2 separate regions of the Homo sapiens genome follow, and region 2 is linked to region 1. A link means that fine-mapping ties the variant in region 1 to the plasma level of a protein whose gene starts in the linked region. Region 1 holds a variant in brackets. A gene starts in the other region. All regions are shown on their reverse strands.

Region 1 (11,157 bases):
GTAAAAGTGTTCCTATTTCTCCACATCCTCTCCAGCACCTGTTGTTTCCTGACATTTTAATGGTCGCCATTCTAACTGGTGTGAGATGGTATCTCATTGTGATTTTGATTTGCATTTCTCTGATGGCCAGTGATGATGAGCATTTTTTCATGTGTCTTTTGGCTGCATAAATGTCTTCTTTTGAGAAGTGTCTGTTCATATCCTTTGTGCACTTGTTGATGGGGTTCTTTGATGTTTTTCTTGTAAATTTGTTTAAGTGCTTTGTAGATTCTGGATATTAGCCCTTTGTCAGATGGGTAGATTGCAAAAATTTTCTCCCATTCTGTAGGTTGCCTGTTCACTCTGATGGTGGTTTCTTTCGCTTTGCAGAAGCTCTTTAGTTTAATTAGATCCCATTTGTCAATTTTGTCTTTTGTTGCCATTGCTTTTGGTGTTTTAGACATGAAGTCCTTGCCCATGCCTATGTCCTGAATGGTATTGCCTAGGTTTTCTCCTAGGGTTTTTATGGTTTTAGGTCTAACATTTAAGTCTTTAATCCATCTCGAATTAATTTTTGTATAAGGTGTAAGGAAGGGATCCAGTTTCAGCTTTCTGCATATGGCTAGCCAGTTTTCCCAGCACCATTTATTAAATAGGGAATCCTTTCCCCATTTCTTGTTTTTGTCAAGTTTGTCAAAGATCACATGGTTGTAGATGTGTGGTATTATTTCCGAGGGCTCTGTTCTGTTCCATTGGTCTACATCTCTGTTTTGGTACCAGTACCATGCTGTTTTGGTTACTGTAGCCTTGTAGTATAGTATAGTTTGAAGTCAAGTAGCATGATGCCTCCAAGTTTGTTCTTTTGACTTAGGATAGTCTTGGCAATGTGGGCTCTTTTTTTGTTCCATATGACCTTTAAAGTAGTTTTTTCCAATTCTGTGAAGAAAGTCATTGGTAGCTTGATGGGGATGGCATTGAATCTATAAATTACCTTGGGCAGTATGGCCATTTTCACAATATTGATTCTTCCTATCCATGAGCATGGAATGTTCTTCCATTTGTTTGTGTCCTCTTATTTCGTTGAGCACTGGTTTGTAGTTCTCCTTGAAGAGGTCCTTCACATCCCTTGTAAGTTGGATTCCTAGGTATTTTATTCTCTTTGAAGCAATCGTGAATGGGAGTTCACTCATGATTTGGCTCTCTGTTTGTCTGTTATTGGTGTATTGGAATGCTTGTGATTTTTGCACATTGATTTTGTATCCTGAGACTTTGCTGAAGTTGCTTATCAGCTTAAGGAGATTTTAGGCTGAGACGATGGGGTTTTCTAAATATACAATCATGTCATCTGCAAACAGGGACAATTTGACTTGCTCTTTTCCTAATCGAATAACCTTTATTTCTTTCTCCTGCCTGATTGCCCTGGCCAGAACTTCCAACACTATGTTAATAGGAGTGGTGAGAGAGGGCATCCCTGTCTTGTGCCAGTTTTCAAAGGGAATGCTTCCAGTTTTTGCCCATTCAGTATGATATTGGCTGTGGGTTTGTCATAAATAGCTCTTATTATTTTGAGATACGTCCCATCAATACCTAATTTATTGAGAGTTTTTAGCATGAAGGGCTGTTGAATTTTGTCAAAGGCCTTTTCTGCATCTATTGAGATAATCATGTGGTTTTTGTCTTTGGTTCTGTTTATATGATGGATTACATTTATTGATTTGCATATGTTGAACCAGCCTTGCATCCCAGGTATGAAGCCAACTTGGTCGTGGTAGATAAGCTTTTTGATGTGCTGCTGGATTCGATTTGCCAGTATTTTATTGAGGATTTTTGCATCGATGTTCATCAGGGATATTGGTCTAAAATTCTCTTTTTTTGTTGTGTCTCTGCCAGGCTTTGGTATCAGGACGATGTTGGCCTCATAAAATGAATTAGGGAGGATTCCCTCTTTTTCTGTGGATTGGAATAGTTTCAGAAGGAATAGTACCAGCTCCTCTTTGTACCTGTGGTAGATTCAGCTGTGGATCTGTCTGGTCCTGGACTTCTTTTGGTTGGTAGGCTATTGATTATTGCCTTAATTTCAGAACCTGTTATTGGTGTATTCAGGGATTCAACTTCTTCCTGGTTTAGTCTTGGGAGGGTGTATGTGTCCAGGAATTTATCCATTTCTTCTAGATTTTCTAGTTTATTTGCGTAGAGGTATTTATAGTATTCTCTAATGGTAGTTTGTATTTCTATGGGATCGGTGGTGATATCCCCTTTATTGTTTGTTATTGTGTCTATTTGATTCTTCTCTCTTTTCTTCTTTATTAGTCTTGCTAGCTGTCTATCAATTTTGATGTTTTCAAAAAACCAGCTCCTGGATTCATTGATTTTTTGAAGGGTTTTTTGTGTCTCTATCTCCTTCAGTTCTGCTCTGATCTTAGTTATTTCTTGCCTTCTGCTAGCTTTTGAATGTGTTTGTTCTTGCTTCTCTAGTTCTTTTAATTGTGATGTTAGGGTGTCAATTTTAGATATTTCCTGCTTTCTCTTGTGGGCATTTAGTGCTATAAATTTCCCTCTACACACTGCTTTAAATGTGTCCCAGAGATTCTGGTATGTTGTGTCTTTGTTCTCATTGGTTTCAAAGAACATCTTTCTTTGTGCCTTCATTTCGTTATGTACCCAGTAGTCATTCAGGAGCAGGATGTTCAGTTTCCATGTAGTTGAGCGGTTTTGAGTGAGTTTCTTAATCCTGAGTTCTAGTTTGATTGCACTGTGGTCTGAGAGACAGTTTATTATAATTTCTGTTCTTTTACATTTGCTGAGGAGTGCTTTACTTCCAACTATGTGGTCAATTTTGGAGTAAGTGTGCTGTGGTGCTGAGACAAATGTATATTCTGTTCATTTGGGGTGGAGAGTTCTGTAGATGTCAGTTAGGTCTGCTTGGTGCATTTAGCCCATTTACATTTAAGGTTAATATTGTTATGTGTGAATTTGATCCTGTCATTATGATGTTAGCTGGTTATTTTGCTCGTTAGTTGATGCAGTTTCTTTCTAGCATTGATGGTCTTTACAATTTGGCATGTTTTTTGCAGTGGCTGGTACCAGTTGTTCCTTTCCATGTTTAGTGCTTCCTTCAGGAGCTCTTGTAAGGCAGGCCTGGTGGTGACAAAATCTCTCAGCATTTGTTTGTCTGTAAAGGATTTTATTTCTCCTTCACTTATGAAGCTTAGTTTGGCTGGATATGAAATTCTGGATTGAAAGTTCTTTTCTTTAAGAATGTTGAATATCGGCCCCCACTTCTCTTCTGGCTTGTAGAGTTTCTGCCGAGAGATCCGCTGTTATTCTGATGGGCTTCCCTTTGTGGGTAACCCGACCTTTCTCTCTGGCTGCCCTTAACATTTTTTCCTTCATTTCAACTTTGGTGAATCTGACAATTAATGTGTTTTGGAGTTGCTCTTCTCGAGGAGTATCTTTATGTTGTTCTCTGTATTTCTGAATTTTAATGTTGGCCTGCCTTGCTAGGTTGGGGAAGTTCTCCTGGATAATATCCTGAAGAGTGTTTTCCAACTTGGTTCCATTCTCCCTGTCATTTTCAGGTACACCAATCAGACGTAGATTTGTTCTTTTCACATAGTCCCATATTTCTTGGAGGCTTTGTTCGTTTCTTTTTTCTCTTTTCTCTCTAAACTTCTCGCTTCATTTCATTAATTTGATCTTCAATCACTGATACTCTTTCTTCCACTTGATCAAATCGGCTACTGAAGCTTGTGCATGCGTCATGTAGTTCTCATGCCATGGTTTTCAGCTCTATCAGGTCATTTAAGGTCTTCTCTACACTGTTCATTCTAGTTAGCTATTCATCTAATCTTTTTTCAAGGTTTTTAGCTTCTTTGTGATGGCTTCGAGCATCCTCCTTTAGCTCAGAGAAGTTTGTTATTACTGATCGTCTGAAGCCCTCTTCTCTCAACTCATCAAAGCCATTCTCCATCCAGCTTTATTCCATTGCAGGTGAGGAGCTGCGTTCCTTTGGAGGAGAAGAGGCACTCTGATTTTTAGAATTTTCAGCTTTTCTGCTCTGGTTTCTCCCCATCTTTGTGGTTTTATCTACCTTTGGTCTTTGATGATGGTGGCGTCCAGATGGGGTTTTGGTGTGGATGTCCTTTCTGTTTGTTAGTTTTCCTTCTAACAGTCAGGACCCTCAGATGCAGGTCTGTTGGAGTTTTCTGGAGGTCCACTCCAGACCCTGTTTGCCTGGGTATCACCAATGGAGGCTGCAGAACAGCAAATACTGCAGAACGGCAGATGTTGCTGTCTGATCCTCCCTCTGGAAGCTTCATCTCAGAGGGGCACCCAGCTGTATGAGGTGTCAGTCGGCCCCTACTGGGAGGTGCCTCCCAGTTAGGCTACTCAGGGGTCAGGGACCCACTTGGGGAGGCAGTCCAACTGTTCTCAGATCTCAAGGTGAGACCACCCTTTGAGTGGTCGTACACAGAAAATGTATAGCTTGCTGGGCCACAAACTGGTTCTGTGGATTCCCTGACCCTCTGACCTTTGGTTTCATCTCAGTAACAGTGGTCCGGGATACATAACAGCCAGTAACTGTAAGGTGATCGCTTTTCTGTGGCCTGGAATAAGTGCGGCAGGCAAGGAAAGGCTACAGAGGCCTGGCTCTTACAGCAGCCGGTCTTCCTAGCCACCCCCGCCCACCCCACCCCTTCCGTTCACACACTGCAGCTAACTTGGTCCCTGGGCCTGGCTTGGGACAGACAGAGGCGTCATCTTGTTCTCATATGCGGGAAGGCTATGAAAAGAAAACCGCGTGTTGGTCCAAAATGTAAACAAGAATTACACTAGGATCTTTTGTTCTCACTCTGACATGGTCAGAATTAATTTGGAGGTCCAAAAAGAGGGCGTTTTGTTTTTTAATCTGAATTACTTAATGCAGGGATATGTAGGGGGTGGTGGGGAAGAAACAAAAATACGTTGCTTAAGTCTATCAGTTGGTATTGGACCATCCCCAGGTCATTCTTCAGGGTCCAGTTTTTGTCATTAGGGGGTTCCTAACTTAGACTTCATATCCAAGTTGCTGATTAAACTTACTGTGAAAAGACCTAGATGGTAGAAGGCAAGCAGTGGAATGTGTCTGGGTATCCGAGAAATATACAGAAAGCACTTAAGAGAACTTAATCATTTTTTTCTCCCTTTCCTTAGATTGAATAGGGAAAACCTGCTTTCTGCAAACAACTGAAAAAGCTGCATTTAGAAACTGTTTCTTTGGCCCTCATCGAGAAGCTGGAACTTGTATTGTTAGGCCCCTTATGGGACAAGCTCTCAACTGCTGATCACCCAGTGATTGTCACCATGGCCAGCAAGAGGAAATCCACCACACCATGCATGATCCCAGTGAAGACTGTGGTGTTGCAAGATGCCAGCATGGAGGCCCAGCCCGCTGAGACCTTGCCTGAAGGACCCCAGCAGGATCTGCCCCCAGAAGCATCTGCTGCCAGCAGTGAGGCAGCACAGAACCCCAGCAGTACTGATGGCTCTACACTGGCCAATGGGCATCGGAGCACTTTAGATGGCTATTTATATTCCTGTAAATACTGCGATTTCAGATCCCATGACATGACCCAATTTGTGGGACATATGAACTCAGAGCACACAGACTTTAATAAAGACCCAACCTTTGTATGCAGTGGGTGCAGTTTTCTGGCAAAAACCCCTGAGGGGCTTTCCTTGCACAATGCCACATGTCACTCCGGGGAAGCCAGCTTTGTGTGGAACGTGGCCAAGCCAGACAATCATGTGGTTGTGGAGCAGAGCATCCCTGAGAGCACCAGCACTCCTGACCTAGCGGGTGAGCCCAGTGCTGAAGGGGCTGATGGACAGGCAGAAATCATCATTACCAAAACTCCAATCATGAAGATAATGAAAGGCAAAGCTGAAGCCAAAAAAATTCATACACTCAAGGAGAATGTCCCTAGCCAGCCTGTGGGTGAGGCCTTACCAAAGCTGTCGACTGGAGAAATGGAGGTGAGAGAGGGGGACCATTCCTTCATCAATGGGGCAGTTCCAGTCAGCCAGGCATCTGCCAGCTCTGCAAAAAACCCCCATGCCGCCAACGGGCCCCTGATAGGAACAGTGCCAGTTTTGCCAGCTGGCATAGCACAGTTCCTCTCCCTCCAGCAGCAGCCCCCAGTGCATGCCCAACACCATGTCCACCAGCCACTGCCCACGGCCAAGGCCCTTCCCAAAGTGATGATCCCCCTGAGCAGCATTCCAACGTACA[A/G]TGCAGCCATGGACTCTAACAGCTTCCTGAAGAACTCCTTCCACAAGTTCCCCTACCCCACCAAAGCCGAGCTCTGCTATTTGACTGTGGTGACCAAGTATCCAGAAGAACAGCTCAAGATCTGGTTCACAGCCCAAAGGCTGAAGCAGGGGATCAGCTGGTCCCCTGAGGAGATTGAGGATGCCCGGAAAAAGATGTTCAATACAGTCATCCAGTCTGTGCCTCAGCCCACAATTACGGTTCTAAATACCCCACTCGTCGCCAGTGCTGGCAATGTCCAGCATCTCATCCAGGCCGCTCTTCCAGGTCACGTTGTGGGGCAGCCAGAGGGTACAGGAGGGGGACTTCTGGTCACTCAGCCATTGATGGCCAATGGGTTGCAAGCAACAAGTTCCCCTCTCCCCCTCACGGTGACATCCGTCCCCAAGCAGCCAGGTGTGGCACCCATTAACACTGTGTGTTCAAATACAACGTCAGCTGTGAAGGTGGTCAATGCGGCCCAGTCGCTCCTCACGGCCTGCCCCAGCATAACCTCCCAAGCCTTCCTTGATGCTAGCATCTACAAAAATAAGAAATCTCATGAACAGCTGTCAGCTCTGAAAGGGAGCTTCTGTCGGAACCAGTTCCCAGGGCAGAGCGAAGTTGAACATCTCACAAAAGTGACGGGCCTCAGTACCAGAGAGGTGCGGAAATGGTTCAGTGATCGTAGATACCACTGCCGGAACTTGAAGGGCTCCAGAGCGATGATACCTGGAGATCACAGTTCCATCATCATTGACTCTGTGCCAGAGGTGTCCTTCTCCCCATCGTCCAAGGTCCCTGAGGTAACCTGCATTCCGACAACAGCCACACTAGCAACCCACCCTTCTGCCAAACGACAATCTTGGCACCAGACTCCTGACTTCACACCAACCAAATACAAGGAGAGAGCCCCTGAGCAGCTCAGAGCCCTGGAGAGCAGTTTTGCACAAAACCCTCTTCCTCTTGATGAGGAACTGGACCGCCTGAGAAGTGAAACCAAAATGACCCGACGAGAAATTGATAGCTGGTTTTCAGAGAGACGGAAAAAAGTGAATGCTGAGGAGACCAAGAAGGCTGAGGAGAATGCCTCTCAGGAGGAAGAGGAGGCTGCTGAGGATGAGGGTGGAGAAGAGGATTTGGCCAGTGAGCTAAGGGTCTCTGGTGAAAATGGCTCTCTGGAAATGCCCAGCAGCCATATCTTGGCAGAGCGCAAAGTCAGCCCCATTAAAATCAACCTGAAGAACCTGAGGGTCACTGAAGCCAATGGCAGGAACGAGATTCCAGGGCTGGGTGCCTGTGACCCTGAGGATGATGAGTCAAACAAACTGGCAGAGCAGCTCCCAGGCAAAGTGAGCTGCAAAAAGACTGCCCAGCAGCGGCACTTGCTGCGGCAGCTCTTTGTCCAGACACAGTGGCCAAGCAACCAGGACTATGACTCCATCATGGCCCAGACGGGTCTGCCACGGCCAGAGGTGGTGCGCTGGTTTGGAGATAGCAGGTACGCACTGAAGAACGGCCAACTCAAATGGTACGAAGACTATAAGCGAGGCAACTTCCCACCAGGGCTACTGGTCATTGCCCCTGGCAACCGGGAGCTCCTGCAGGACTATTACATGACACACAAGATGCTGTATGAAGAGGACCTGCAGAACCTCTGTGACAAGACCCAGATGAGCTCCCAGCAGGTCAAGCAGTGGTTTGCTGAGAAAATGGGGGAGGAGACCAGAGCCGTGGCAGACACAGGCAGTGAGGACCAGGGCCCTGGTACTGGTGAGCTCACAGCAGTTCACAAAGGGATGGGTGACACCTATTCAGAGGTGTCTGAGAACAGTGAGTCGTGGGAGCCCCGTGTCCCTGAGGCCAGCTCAGAGCCCTTTGACACATCGAGTCCCCAGGCTGGACGTCAGCTCGGTAAGGAGTCCACAGGGGCCATGGCTATCCTGTGTGGGTAAGGGGAGGAGGCACTTATGGTTGGGCACTGAATTTACTGCACAGGGGCATCTGCTGTCTCTAAGGCTGCCTGGCAGCAGCATTAACCGCCTGGCTGCTTCAGAGGACAACTAGCAGCAGAAGCCATAGGAATATAATATGATAAACGGTTGAGAGCTGTTTTTTGTTTCATGTGTTTTTAAAAACCTGCGCAGGGGAAGGAACATGGTGACCCTAAAGGGGTCCAAGCTTTTCTAGCCATTTCTTAGCAATAGGAGAACAGGTCAAAACATCCTCTGAGTCGGGCAGATCCACAGCCACTGGGTAGGAGACAGCAACAGGACATGAGTTGAAATTCAGCTCAAATTGATGAAAAGGAAAGAGAGCCTTTAATTGTCCTTAGATACATAATGTGCTTTTTTCTGATGATGAAAGTCTTGTGTTTCTCTGGTTATGCCTGATGTAGAAGAAATGTTTAGTATAATGGAAAATCACCTTCCTTCTTTGACATACATGGAATCAAAAGCTTGAATTTTGTTCCTCAGTTTCTCTGGATTGTACTCGAAAGCAAAATGTATCATAGAAGATTATTTTTATTTAAGACATAGTTTTGAAGCCACAGACAAGTCATGTTATTACGTGTTGATTTTCTAGGTTCCTGGTCACTGAGTTCCCAGCCTCTCCCTTCCCTCCTTACCCTTTGACATTTGTGTTCTCATTAGAGACCCCATCAGAGGGCAGCCAGAAGCTCAGGTGAGAGCCAGGAGGGCGGAGTATTGTAGAAGCTGAAGGGATTGGGGGTTCCAAAATGGCAGCATTGCTAGCTGAGTTGGCAATGTGGGAGGGGGTACAGGAGACACTATTTGTGGTGTTGGGCAATGTGATGGTTCCGTGGTGACTTTGGCATGAGCTGCCTCAGTGTGGGGCCTTGTGTTTGGTACCTCATCCCCAGGGCCAACCATAGTGGCCTATCCCTCAGAAATCCCACAGAATTTCCTGGATGGTGTTGCATTGTTTCCATACAATAGCCAACCATTGTTGTTTGTTTATTTTGGCCTGGCAAATCCCAGCTCCTCCACCCCAGTTGCTTTCTACTTAGGATGTCTTAAAAAGGACAAAATTCTTTTTCTTTCTCTGAATATTTTAAATTCATTTGAACACAACAGTTTGAAACATAGTTATGCTATTGTTTCTTTACTGAATTAAGGAAAAAGAGACTTCCTTTTTGGCCCATAATTTGGTGGGTTGGGGGCGGGGAGTACCATGTCATCCATCTGTTTAGCATTTGCAGAAAGCCTGTTCTTCTCATATTAACATACTAAGGCAAAATCCAGTTCCACAAAGCCCACAGTGAGAGCAAACACCTGGTGGAGCCCAAAGCCCTGGTCAGCACTTAGGGTAGGAGTACAAGGGCCACTGGCTCCCTTACAGCCTCCTCCAACTCCAGCCATGTTTTCAATACGGCAACAACAAAACACTCCCCTCCTTTGGGGCCCACAGCTCACAGCCTGCTTTATAAAGTAGCTGATGGCACACCCTGGAGTCAGAACAACAGGTTTTTATGGCTAGTTTAACTTTTTTATAATGCAGAGCAGGTAGTCTCTCCTACAAGTCTTTGTCCAAGTTTGTAAGTTGGTCCTTATATTATACCCAGCTCTGTGCTTCTTGTAATATACCAGTAGGCCAGGGTGTCATGCTCAAGAGAGATGAGGATGTTTGAACAAGTTGATTACGAAAGCTGACATGGAGAATGATGTTATGGAAGATGGCAGTAGCAGCACCAGGAATCTTTTCCTCCACCAAAGCAGTTGAGCTGGCAGTAATTGTCTCAAGCAACTGTTTTGGGACTCAGAAGTCTAGTTGAACACTTGCAACATCCAGGGAAGAGCTTGATGGAGAGGCTTACAAATTTTGATGGTTTTTTTTTGTTTCAGCATCCGCAAGCTCTGCAGCAGGCAACTGTGGAAAATGTTCCTGGTGCAGACTGTTGGTGCCAGGGTAGGCAATAACAACTTTGTCCTCCAAAAGTCAAGTTTTTGTGGCCAGGTGTGGTGGCTCACACCTGTAATCCCAGCACTTTGGGAGGCTGAGGTGTGGATCACTTGAGGTCAGGAGTTTGAGGCCAGCCTGGCCAACATGGTAAAACCCTGTCTCTATTAAAAATACAAAAATTAGCCAGGCATGTTGGTGAGTGCCTGTAATCCCAGCTATTTGGGAGGCTGAGGCAGGAGAATCACTTGAACCTGGGAGGCAGAAGTTGCAGTGAGCCAAGATGACACCACTGCGTTCCAGCCTGGGCAACAGAGTGAGGCTCCATTGCAAAAAAAAAAAAAAAAGAGTTTTTTGATTTCTGATTACTGCATTTAATCACTGAGGGGGCCAGTGCAGAGGCTGATCATTGTCTCAATGCCCTTGGGCAGAGGGAGCTTTCTAGCCACAAGGGGATTTAAAGAGACAGTACCTATTTTTTTTTTTCTTTATTCCTCCTTTTGGCAAGCCAGATATTTAAGGAAATCTTAGGTCACTGGTTAACCACAGAGATATCACAACAGAAACTTCACTGACCCCATACTGCAAAGAATACACACTTCACAAAAATAGTTGGAAAAGTCACAAATAGTTGGCTCCAGCCCTCAATAAGCAAAAATCAGCAATCTCTGAGGCATGACAGAATTAGATTCTCAGTTACCACAATGTAATACTCATAATGTCCAGTTCTCAACAAAAAATTACAAAACATAAAAAGAAATAGAAAACCATGGTCCATTCACAGGAAAAAAAATTGACAGGCACCATCCTTGAGGAAGTCCAGACATTGGAATTATTACCCAAAGACATTAAATCAACTATCTTAAGTATGTTCAGCGAGCTAAAGGAAAACATGGACGAAGAACTAAAGGAAATCAGGAAAACCATGCATGAACAAAATGAGAATATCAATAAAGAGATAGAAATTA
Region 2 (11,157 bases), not on the chromosome of region 1:
GGTAGGCCAAGTTAAAAACAAAACTATAGCTTTACTTGTTCTTGACATAGAATTGGAAATACCGCATATATGTTTCAAGAATATACATTGTACATTGTGCATGGACAAATGCACAACAATTATTATAACAAATCTTATTTTTTCTATTTTATCATTGACATATGTAATCAAAATAACCTTTTATTTGAAAAAAAATAGTGCCATGGTTCTCAGAAGAATGCATAAAATTGTAGCATTATACATGGTGAGAGAGGTAAGAAAATAATCTGAAATCTTGAATAATGCTGCCCTCAGTAATTAAAGCTCTTTAGTAATTAAGAAAATCCTTTTGTAATTAAATTTGCTAATACATGATTAAAAGTGAATCGATGGGGGTCAAGATTAAATAAGATACATAGAAAAAAACTTAGTTCTTAGGATAATGACAAAATATCAAATCCTGTTTTTATCTTAGTAAAAATAAATCATTTGAGTGTATTTTTAGCAACTTGTTTACCTGAATCATTGCAGGCATCTTCCATTACTCTCCAAGCATGTTTACATCCATTTGCATCACGTAAGCATTGCTCTCTTAAATATGTGCAATTATTGGTTTGGGAAGTGTATTCATTTTCCAAGCTTAACCCCATAGCTTGAATAACAACAACAAAAACAAGGTTGTAATATAAATTTGGCATCCATTTTCTTCAAATCTAAGTTATTAATGATAAAGAGCAGAATTATGGAAAATAACATGTAGTGAAATAATTGATGGTGGGAATAACCTTAACCTCCTCTCTAGCTGTAGATCTGTATTTCTTTTTATAGATTCTTAAATGAATATTTTAAATTTGCTCATTTTGACGTCTCATCATCTATTTATTCCTCAACTTATAATTTATTTTTATTACTATTATTCCATTAAAACTGCTCTTAAAAAAGTCTCTAATTACCCCTTTAAAATCTAACTTAATGGTTTTAAACTTTATCTCACCATTGACCATTTTGTTGACTTTTTTGTTTTTGAAACTCTTCCTTTGCCAGCCCTCCCTTCTGTTCTCTTGATATTTATCCACTTTGTATTTTCTGACCATAGCTAAAATTATTCCCAGGATCATTTTATTCTTCTAGTAAAGTATAATTTTAGCTTAGGTTCTCTTCTCAGACCTTTTCTATTTTCATTTTATACATTCTCTGCAGAAAATTCCATGTACTCTTATGGTTTGAACTAAAATGTTAGTCTGATGATTCTCAAATGTATAATTTAATCTCAGTATTTCCAGCGTTCCTGTCATAGGTACGTAATTGTTATCTCTACTTGAATGTTTCAGAAACACTTTCACAGGATCTTCATCATCATTGTTCCACTGTGGACCACTACTTCATTCACAATGCCACAATTAACATGAGAACTCAAACTAGAAATCTTGGTTTTGTGGTAGACTATTTTCCATCCTCAACTTCACTCTCCCATATTCATTCTTGCTAAATTTATTGACTTTCACTTTGAGCATTTGTTTAACTTATTAGTCAGTCTGCCTCCAGTTTGAATCTTATTCAGAACCTTATTCAGATAGGTTCTTTGTAACCCCTAATCTACCTGATGTACTATTCTAGTCTTGCCATTTTTCTGTTTTATATCCTTTAAACTATTTCTCATATCAGGGCTCTCATATTCCTCACCATGTGCAATCTGGAAGGTCTCAAGCATTTATCGTTTCCCGAATGATCCATGCTGTCTTCTACCTCTGCATACCTACTGTCTGATCCCTGATAAGTATTTTCTTTCTTTTTCTTCTGGAATAACCCTTTTTGTTGTTTAAAACTGAACACAATCATTAGCTATTTTCTGGAAACTTTACTTGAATTCTATACTCCCCTTTTTCCACACTCAAATTGAATTTGACATCTTCCATCCATTTACTAGAACTGTGGGGATCCCGCAATTACAGATTTTACTGTTCTGTAGTGTATATATTCATGTGCCTGTCTCCACCACTGGATTGTACAGCTTTACCCACAGACATTAAGGATAATTTATAACTGTATTTTTGTCACCAAACACAGTGATGCAGTATAGGTATTCAATAAATGAATATTGGCTTATACCCAAGTTATTAGATGTTTATATATAAGATATATAAATAACTGATAACATCTAAAAAATAATACCTTCCAGATATTTACAAGTTACTTTTGCTAGAGGAGAAATCCAGCAAGTTTTCTAAAAACAATCAAGAAAATAGCAATGTTAATTTAATATGTTACGCAAGTTAGTCAAATTGATTCTGCAAACATATGAAGTGACACTAGCCAAATCAATTAATAGAAAAAAATACAGGGATTGAAATTGTGTTACAGAGACAGTTGTAGTAACTGTCATCAAGAGAGTCAAGCTATAACTAAATAAGAGCCAAATTATTTGAATTTTTAAATGCTGTTGTTAATTATGAATCACCTGTGACAATGTAGAGTGATAGGCTTCAAGTAAGGGCTTGAAATCTCTCTTTTTTTTTTAAATCTTACCTCTTTGCAAATCTCATCTTATAAGAAGAATCCAAGACAACTGATTGGACCATGTGTACTACTTGCTGGGTCACTGCATTTGGAGATTAGGCCCATGGGTGTAGCTTGGTAACATTTTTCTTGCTGAGGGCTGGAGTGGAAATGGACATATCAGCTTTCTGTTTTCTCATGTGTTCATGGACAACCTCATCTAGCCAAGCCCTTGTACTCCTTATTTGGCTAGCCCAAAGAAAGAAAAAGAGGACTCTTTTGATCCTAGCACAAATTTACTTGGTCAAATCCAGTTTTCCAAAGACCCAGAAATAGAAATTTGAAGTCATAAACTCAACTTATAAGAAAATGGTATTTTATTTGCCATTAATCATTATATCTTGTGAAAAGCCCCTTCAAGAATCTTATAAGTGATAATATCCCAGATATATCATCAAAACTTCATCAGTACTTCAGAGTAATAATCACTTAGAAATACTACATGTTGTCTTCCCCAAATATGTTTTACTTCCTTTCACATTTTCAGTTTTTAATGTTTTACTTCCTTTCACATTTTCAGTTTTTGGTTGAACAAGCTTCTTAATAGATTATTTTATAGGATTTTCCACACTTCCTACTCAACAAAATATTGACTCAACTAAGAAAACCACCTCAATGATTTGGTCCACAAGAATCAAGAATGTATTACCTCTCCAAAATCTGTCTTATTCATTCCAAACTATGACTTGTGGTTTTGTATTTAACCTAGGATTTTTCAAGAATTTTCCTGTAATACTCAATGAAAAATAACTTCTATTTTTAAATTAATAAGATGGATAATGCTGCAAATTATATCAGTGTTTTAAAGATGTATGGGGCTTATTATCCTACTAAATGTTCTGAGATTTTAAAATTCATTGTTTTCCACATTTCTTTACCAACAGACATTTTCCTCATTATAAGACCTATTTAGATAATGTCAAACAAGCATTCTAAAAAATATAATATGGGAAATGTTGGTACAACATATCAAATAGTATAATTTTAGTTCTAACAATGTTAAGAAGTTATTTCCCTCCTTCATGCAACCTGGTGTCAAGTTAATTTAGAAGTAAAAGATGAAAATAAGAGGCCATTGCCTTTTCAACTGAGGTCATAATGAGTCTGTAATGTATTTTGTGAGCTTCATTATATTGCTGCCTGATCTATAAAAATTAAAGTTTCCTATATTTCTCTTTATCACAAAAAAGAACTAAAGAAATATTAACAATCTTTATAAAAATAAGAAAATATTTTAGGAATAATTACAAAAAGCAAAATTATGGAACAATGGAAAAATATTACTTAAACAAAAGAAAAACTGAAAATATAAGGGATTTCTCTCCTTCTTAACTTGTTTCCTTGACTTGATATGACTCTCCTTTTATGTTCGATACAATTTAAAGTAAACTTCTTTGCTTTCTGGCCCATAATTATGCCTTTATTCAAGTATATATTAGCTTAAACATAAAATGCCATATTTTTAAAATTACAATCTAGCTACAGTTACAATTATTCCTTTTCTGAATTCAGTTTATAGATTCTACCAAATGCTAAAGAAGATATAAAATATTCTCCAGTCACACATCTAGCAAATAGATTCATGGATTCTACATTAAATAAAAATAAATTATTTTTCATCAACATCTTATAATACATTCATCGGATCCAATACAAGAGAAGTAAGTCCACACTTGAGTTCTAGGTCATAAAAATTAATGAAAATATGAAGCATTCTGATATGGTGTTAAGTGGTTTTACTTCACTAAATTACTTCTAGTTAGCAAATATTAACACTGTAGGTAAATTGAATGTTTTAAATTAATCTTATTTTTGTTTAATTTCAAAGCAAAATAAATAAAATAGATAACAGTTTGAAATTTTTCATCTTATAACTTGTAAATAGATACTGGAAGGTTTTATTTTTATTTCTAAAAGGTTCTAACACATGTGTGAATTCCATTAATCCTAATAAGTAACTCAAAGTCATTGGGTCATTCTATACAATAAAACAGAAACAAGCTGAGAGATTAATACAATTTTCACATGCTGCATTATCTATAGAGTTAGAAATAAGTGAGTAAAAGTGAGTGTACATTTTTGCAAGAAGAATAAACCATGTTAAAGCATAAATTTGTAATTTACTTGGTACTTCATATTATAAGCCCCTGTTAAGCTTAAGTGTGATGGTATTCAGTTTACAAAGAATTAGTATTATGAATAATTCAGATAAACCAGAAGCACCATTCACTTACCCAAGAAAATAAACACTATCATGCTGGACAACTCACGGCAGTTCACCTGGAAAAAAAGGCAGATGCGTTTCTTCTGACAACTTTCTTAAGAGTAACTGTCCAGAATAAGGCTTCAGCCTCTGTGTTTGCTTCCTAAAGGCATTACCAATTCAAGTCAGCTTCCTATATCATCATTTCCTCCCCAGTGTTTCCTAAGTTGTGAACTGTTCTAATTATATTCAAATTCGATTATTCTCCTGAGGGTGCTGGTCTTGAATATTAGGATATTATGCCTCTAAGAAAGCCCATGAGCCAAATACTAAGAGAAATGATACATAATCTGCACGTTCATGAAAAAGGTTTATTTTCCTTAACTAAAATACAACACTACGTAAAAGCCTCCCAAATATGACCCAAAATTTTCAAAGACACTTGAGCATACTCAGTCTCCACTTGTTTAATTAGCCTCATTAAGGCAATTTCATGTCATTTGAGGATATAGAAAAGCTAAAAACGCATAATAGCCCTGGAAAATGTATGCAAAATCGAAGTTCTACTAGAATTAGCCTGATATAACTCAAACATACTGGGAAGCTGCTTCCCAAACAAAGAATGTTGTATTACATGTGCCACAAACCCCAGTATGCTTAAAAATTATGCCACTTCAGCTACAGTATCTGATACCTTCCAAGTACAGCTACAGTGTAAAAAACATACTCTTCTCAGTGATGCAGAAATTCTATGTTCCACTGGAAAGATAATCATCTACATTTGTGTGCATCACTTGACAACTATTTTTTTTCCTAGTTTCAATGAAGGGACTTATTTATCTTATGCCTTGGTTTGGCTACGCCCTTCCTCATGTAAACCTACAGCACATCATCTTTCTTGGGGTGTCATGAGACTTCTATTTCTAAATCACCTGGAGGCCTTTCTAGAATGAATGCTTAAAAAATAAAATGCTGCTTTGGCAAGAAATTAAGAAGAGATAGGGATGGGAGAGAAGTATTTGTGCAGTTACACCATTGAGTTTTTGATTGCATATTGTTCATGTTTATTTTATACCAGTAGAGAAGTTATACTATATTTTGTTTTCAGCAGGCATAATGAAAAAACACAGACTCTAGAGTCCAACAAACAAAAATTATAACACTGCTTTTCTCTATAGATCTAGATGAGTGACTTAGCATTGGAAGTTATTCACTCCTTTGTAAAATGTGTCAATTGTATTAATTCTTGCTGTAATATAAGGTATGTATATGAGGGGCTTATATCACAAAAAAATTGATTATATTACATTCACTGACTTAATTATTACATAATAGAAGGATTATAATATCATAAAATTAATCAATCTTTTCTTCTTTTCAAGGGATTGAGTCACTAAACTTTCCTAATGACTTCTACCAAGACAAGCTTAGATATAAGCCAACTTAAAAGGACTTAAACTAGGACAGAGTTGGTTACTACCATAGTTGAAGAGTCCGTGGGAAGAATTAATTTCAGGTGTGTTTTAAACTGTTTTCTCTGGGTCTAAGTTGTTTGTTTCCTCCTGTCTCTTACCTGCATTCTTCTCTACCAGTTCTATTCCCAGAAAGGCTATTTCCTTCTGGTGGGAAGATGGCTGTGAAGCCCTTGGCAAACATCCTTCTCTCTTAGAAAGCAGGGTAGAAAGTGTCATTCTTTTACTATTAAAGTTGCAGAATTAAGTCACATCAGTTCTAGATGTGTCAAGTGCCAATCAATTTTACAAAAGGAACTTACCCCATGTCCAGTATCATAGATACAGGTTGTCAGTGTAGTTGGCCCTTTTCAAAGCACAGAATCTGATGGTGCAGAAGGTGTGCATCACGAAGGAAAATTATGGTATTAGAAGAAGCAGCTGAAGGGATCTTGGGGCAGCAAAAACCACATGCTTAGTAATGTATCTAAGTGCTGAGTTTAAGAAGAGCAACCACAAGGAAAATAAACTTATGAAACAAAGGAAGAGAATAACATAATTTTCTGTTCAAGGAAGGCGATATAGTTATGACTTTCTAGAGTGCAGTGATCCACAGAACCTGAATATAAGACCCTGTGAATGGTGCTAATCTTTGCCAGACAAGTACAGCTGCTTCGGTCTATAACTTATAGGTATAGAAAGCACCTGTGGTCATATAGCTGTTTATCCAACACAAAATAATATCAGCTGTGTTACCACTGAATGCCTGTTCATTGAGCCATCAGTCCTCTTTGTGTATAGACTCCTTCTCAGGATAATATTTTCATGGCAAAAAAAAATTTTAAAGATCATAAAGGAAATTAAGTATGTTAAAATATACTTGTCAAAATATGTTTTAAATTTGTGATAAAGTAATACATATGCTTCCTCATTGCAGAAGGAAATATCAAGATCTAAGTGAGTCTAAAAATATTGTTGTTTCAGTGTAGTGATTATCACAGATCCTAATTTGAAAGAACTTCCACTAATAAAATGTTATATAAAAATATCTGTAACTTCTATTAGTGACAAAGATAGCACAGGAAGTACTGAATTTCAATGAGTTTAGTAAAAAGATAACACAATTTTACCCCAAGCAAATTATAGAACCTCAAATTCATAAACCCAAATTTAATGTCTACGAAAATAATACTCTCGATTATTTAAATGAAAGCTGCTATTGAATCAGAACATTGTAGAAATAGAATTATCAATTTTGATAGTTTCTAATTATAATGTGTGCCTAATTTTAAAATGTATTCTACATTTCAAGTAAAATGTTGTAATATATAAATGAAACAGAAGAAAGTACAGCTGCTCCGGTGGGAATTTTCATGAGTAGTCCTCAGCTCTACTTATTGGGCTTTGCCAGCACATTCACAGCTGCTACTGAAGCATCCCAAAGGCTCTGAAATTCCCATTCAAAATTCCCTAAATTTATGTAATTGCTTTTTGATAAATTTTGTTTTAGCTAACGTATCATTCTCATGACAGTTAAATGCACTAGACCTCACACCTTGGCAAAAGACATGTAATATTTACTAAAAGACTTTTGTATCAAAGACTCTACAAAAACAAAAATGAGGGACAGACACTAGTTGCATGAATTGGATAAACTAGAATGCAAATTAAGCTACATATAAAAGCGAAAAAAGAAAAATTGTTAAATAAAACTCTATGATAAATCAGTGAAAAAAACTTCATATTCAAGGGCACTTCTTTTTGGAACATAAAGTTGTTTAAAGCTTTTGTTCAGTGACATTCGACTTCCTCCAATCACCTTTGCATTACCACTATATTTGTCTACTTAAAACTTTTGTAGCATGCTACTGTCTGGAGGAGTCTGTTCAGCTCTAGCCAACCTAAAATTGACATTCTGAAAAGAATACATACATATGGTCATGAGTTTCTTGGCTAAAAGACCTGTAAACAGAGTTCTAAGATGCCAAGTAATAAAAGCAGACATGAAGCAGTAATTTTTGGAGAAATTAAACAACAACAACAAAAAAACTCTTGCTTTTTTTATTGGAAGACCTCACCAAAAAAAATAATAATAATTAGGTATACTTAATCACCTCACCATAACTTGCCCATCAAGCTCCTCACTCACAACCTGATGAGATGTGGCCAGGCATGGAGGGACAAGGCCGCCAAAACTGGGAGAAGCTGAGAAACCACAAGGAGCCAAGACTCTGAGGTTTGTTCTGCGGAGTTCAGATGGACTAACGTTACTGAGACTCAGTGGATGAAGAGGAAAAGATAAGTGCTAATTATGGGTGGCCTTTTATGCTTTACCAAGAAGACTAGAGTTTAACAGAAGAAAGAGAGGCTTTTGGTGAGTTCCAGAACAGAGTAACCTGGTTGGGTTTTGAAAAATTGCTTATGCAATGCTATGGAAGATGGTTTGGAAACAAGGTAAATTGCCTGTCACAAAGCTATGTCAGTAGTTTAGGGGAGAATGACAAGGGCTGAACTAAAAGTAGTAATGATGCAGAGAAAATGGTAGGTCCAAGAAATTTCAGAATTTAAAATTTACAGGATCTGGCAACCATTTGAGATGGTGGGCGGGTTGAGAAGGAGGAATGAATTCTTACTTTTGTTTTGCGTTACTTGGTGTTGGTTGTCACCATTTATCAAGGCACAAGACTCACAGTTCAATACTCTTTATACAAAATCATTCAATCCATTGATGAAGTTAAAAATTTTAATTAAACAGCCATTCCTTTGGCTCATGTCATCATTTGGGAAGATACGCTGCCTGTCTTCAAGAGAACTAAAACAGCTCCAAAAAATAAGATTGCCTTAGAGGATTATTATTAAGTTCTGGCCCTCAGTCTAGTAGGAAATAAAGAATGGACTCATTTATTATTTATGCTTTAAACAATGATATTGATGGAAGTGTTAATGATATTGCCAATTTATTTACTTATAAAAAAAGCTAAATGCTAGCCAGTATCTTAATGTAGGTATGCTAACATAAAATTGGTGGGTGAAAATATTTAAAGAGGATTAGTTCCATAATTCATTCTATATAACCTGAATATTTAATGGCATCAGGTTAGAATAAACCCCATGTAGCCCTCTTCATGATAAGGAGGTATATGTCATTTTCTTTCTTTTTTGGGTAAATTAATATACTCAATCATATCAGTCCAATTTGGCTGAGACAGTGCTATCCCCTTTCAGCTAAAATTGAGTAAGTCTCCATGGTTGTGTTTTGGTGATGGTCGTGTTACTCTATTAGTTGGGTCTGATTTTCAGAAATTTATTACATCTCTAAGACCATAGTTAAGACCAACTATTAAAAAGCATTCATAACGCCTTTAAATTCCTTATAACTCGTTTGCTACTCTCTGTTTCCCATTTTATGTAACTGCTAGAGTCTAGTGCACATTCCAATTATCACCGTGAAAAGATGTTATGTACCTGTTGATCCAGCGAGGTTATTACTAAATGAAGGAAGACCAACATCTTACCAGATCACCTCAAAACATTATACATTTGTATTCAAATTTATATGTTCTAGTCCTTTTTTTAAAAATAGGAGATAGTAACCTTTGAATTGTGGCCAGACACTGCCAACATTGTCTTTCAGAGAGACGACTGAATGGGGGTAGTGTATGGTCCTGCTGAATTCCAGATAGGGCAATTTTGTAAGGCCAGTTCTCTCAATGGTGCATTGGAAAGGGGCTTTGGACATTCCATGGGGGGAGATGTCCGACAGGAACATAAAAGGATTGTTAATAAGTTGCTAAGGCTACTGAAAACAGATCTATAACTGTTATAATGATCTTTTCCTTTTCAAAATAGTTTTTACATTGTAAAGTTTTGATACTTATATATATAGCATTTGAAAAATATAAGAAATAAAAGTAGCCAGGTGCAGTGGCTCACGCCTGTAATCCCAGCACTCTGGGAGGCCAAGGCAGGTGGCTCACCTGAGCTCAGGAGTTTGAGACCAGCCTGGCCAACATGGTGAAACCCTGTCTCTACTAAAAATACAAAAATTAGCAGGTAGCGGGGCATGGTGGCACATGCCTGTAACCCCAGCTACTCGGGAGGCTGAGGCAGGAGAATCACTTGAACCCAGGAGGCGGAGGTCGCAGTGAGCCGAGATTGTGCCATTGCACTCCAGCCTGGGCGACAAGAGCAAAATTCCAAAAAAAAAAAAAAAAAAAAAAAAGAAAGAAAGAAAAAGAAGGAAAGAAATAAAGAGAAGGAAAGGAAGAAAGAAAAGAAGGAAAGAAAGAAAGAAAGAAAGAAAGAAAGAAAGAAAGAAAGAAATGTATTCATATTTAAGACACCCAGATGTGTCTACTGTTACTTTTTGATGAACTTTCTTTAAACTGTTTTCCTTAGACTGATGTCAGCAACATGGCAGAATAGGAAGCTCCTGGCACTCCCAATACTCACAAATGCACAGAATGAACATCTCAATTAATTCCCTGTGAGAGAAAGTCAGAAATAAGTTGAGAGATTCCTGCCTACCAGGCAAGAAAGAAAACATGCATGGCCGGGCGCAGTGGCTCATGCCTTTAATCCCAGCACTTTGGGAGGCCAAGGCTGGTGGATTATTTGAGTCCAGGAGTTTGAGACCAGCCTGGATAACATGATGAAACCCTGTCTCTACCAAAAATACAAAAATTAGCTGGGAATGGTGGTACGCATCTGTAGTCACAGCTACTCGGGAGGCTGAGGCAGGAGAATCACTTGAACCAGGGAGGCAGAGGCTGCAGTGAGCCAAGATTGTGCCACTGCACTCTAGCCTTTACAACAGAATGAGACTCTGTCTCAAAAAAAAAGACAAAAAAAAACACATCAAAAGCAAAATAAAAACCCAAACATGCACTTCAAATGGGTAGACAAATCTGAGGCATACTTGAGCATGGACCCCTTCCAGGTACTTCACCATATAACTGGAATCACTAA

Alleles and levels. Positions count from the first base shown, and alleles are read on the strand shown. Strength reflects both the effect of a copy and how common the allele is.
For the plasma level of the protein whose gene starts at base 4,877 in region 2, A is the low allele of the variant in region 1 and G is the other (weak association).

The links. PIP is the posterior inclusion probability: the model's chance that the variant is causal. The UK Biobank Pharma Proteomics Project read protein levels with antibody pairs (Olink). The fine-mapping took linkage between variants from a reference panel, not from the people measured, so its PIPs are less certain.
Region 2: GFRAL starts here. The variant in region 1 is fine-mapped to the plasma level of the GFRAL protein (UK Biobank, PIP above 0.99).

Annotation. Positions count from the first base shown.
Region 1 is chr20:41,199,082-41,210,238 of GRCh38, reverse strand. ZHX3 (zinc fingers and homeoboxes 3) reads left to right here. Exons shown (of 4, transcript NM_001384317.1): 3 at 5,173-8,182. The coding sequence starts at 5,323. Among named protein-coding and RNA genes, the nearest start is that of MIR6871, 36 kb to the right of the region's middle. The variant A/G (reference allele first, on the strand shown) is at 6,251.
Region 2 is chr6:55,321,189-55,332,345 of GRCh38, reverse strand. GFRAL (GDNF family receptor alpha like) reads right to left here and starts at 4,877. Exons shown (of 9, transcript NM_207410.2): 1 at 4,770-4,877; 2 at 497-631. The coding sequence starts at 4,791.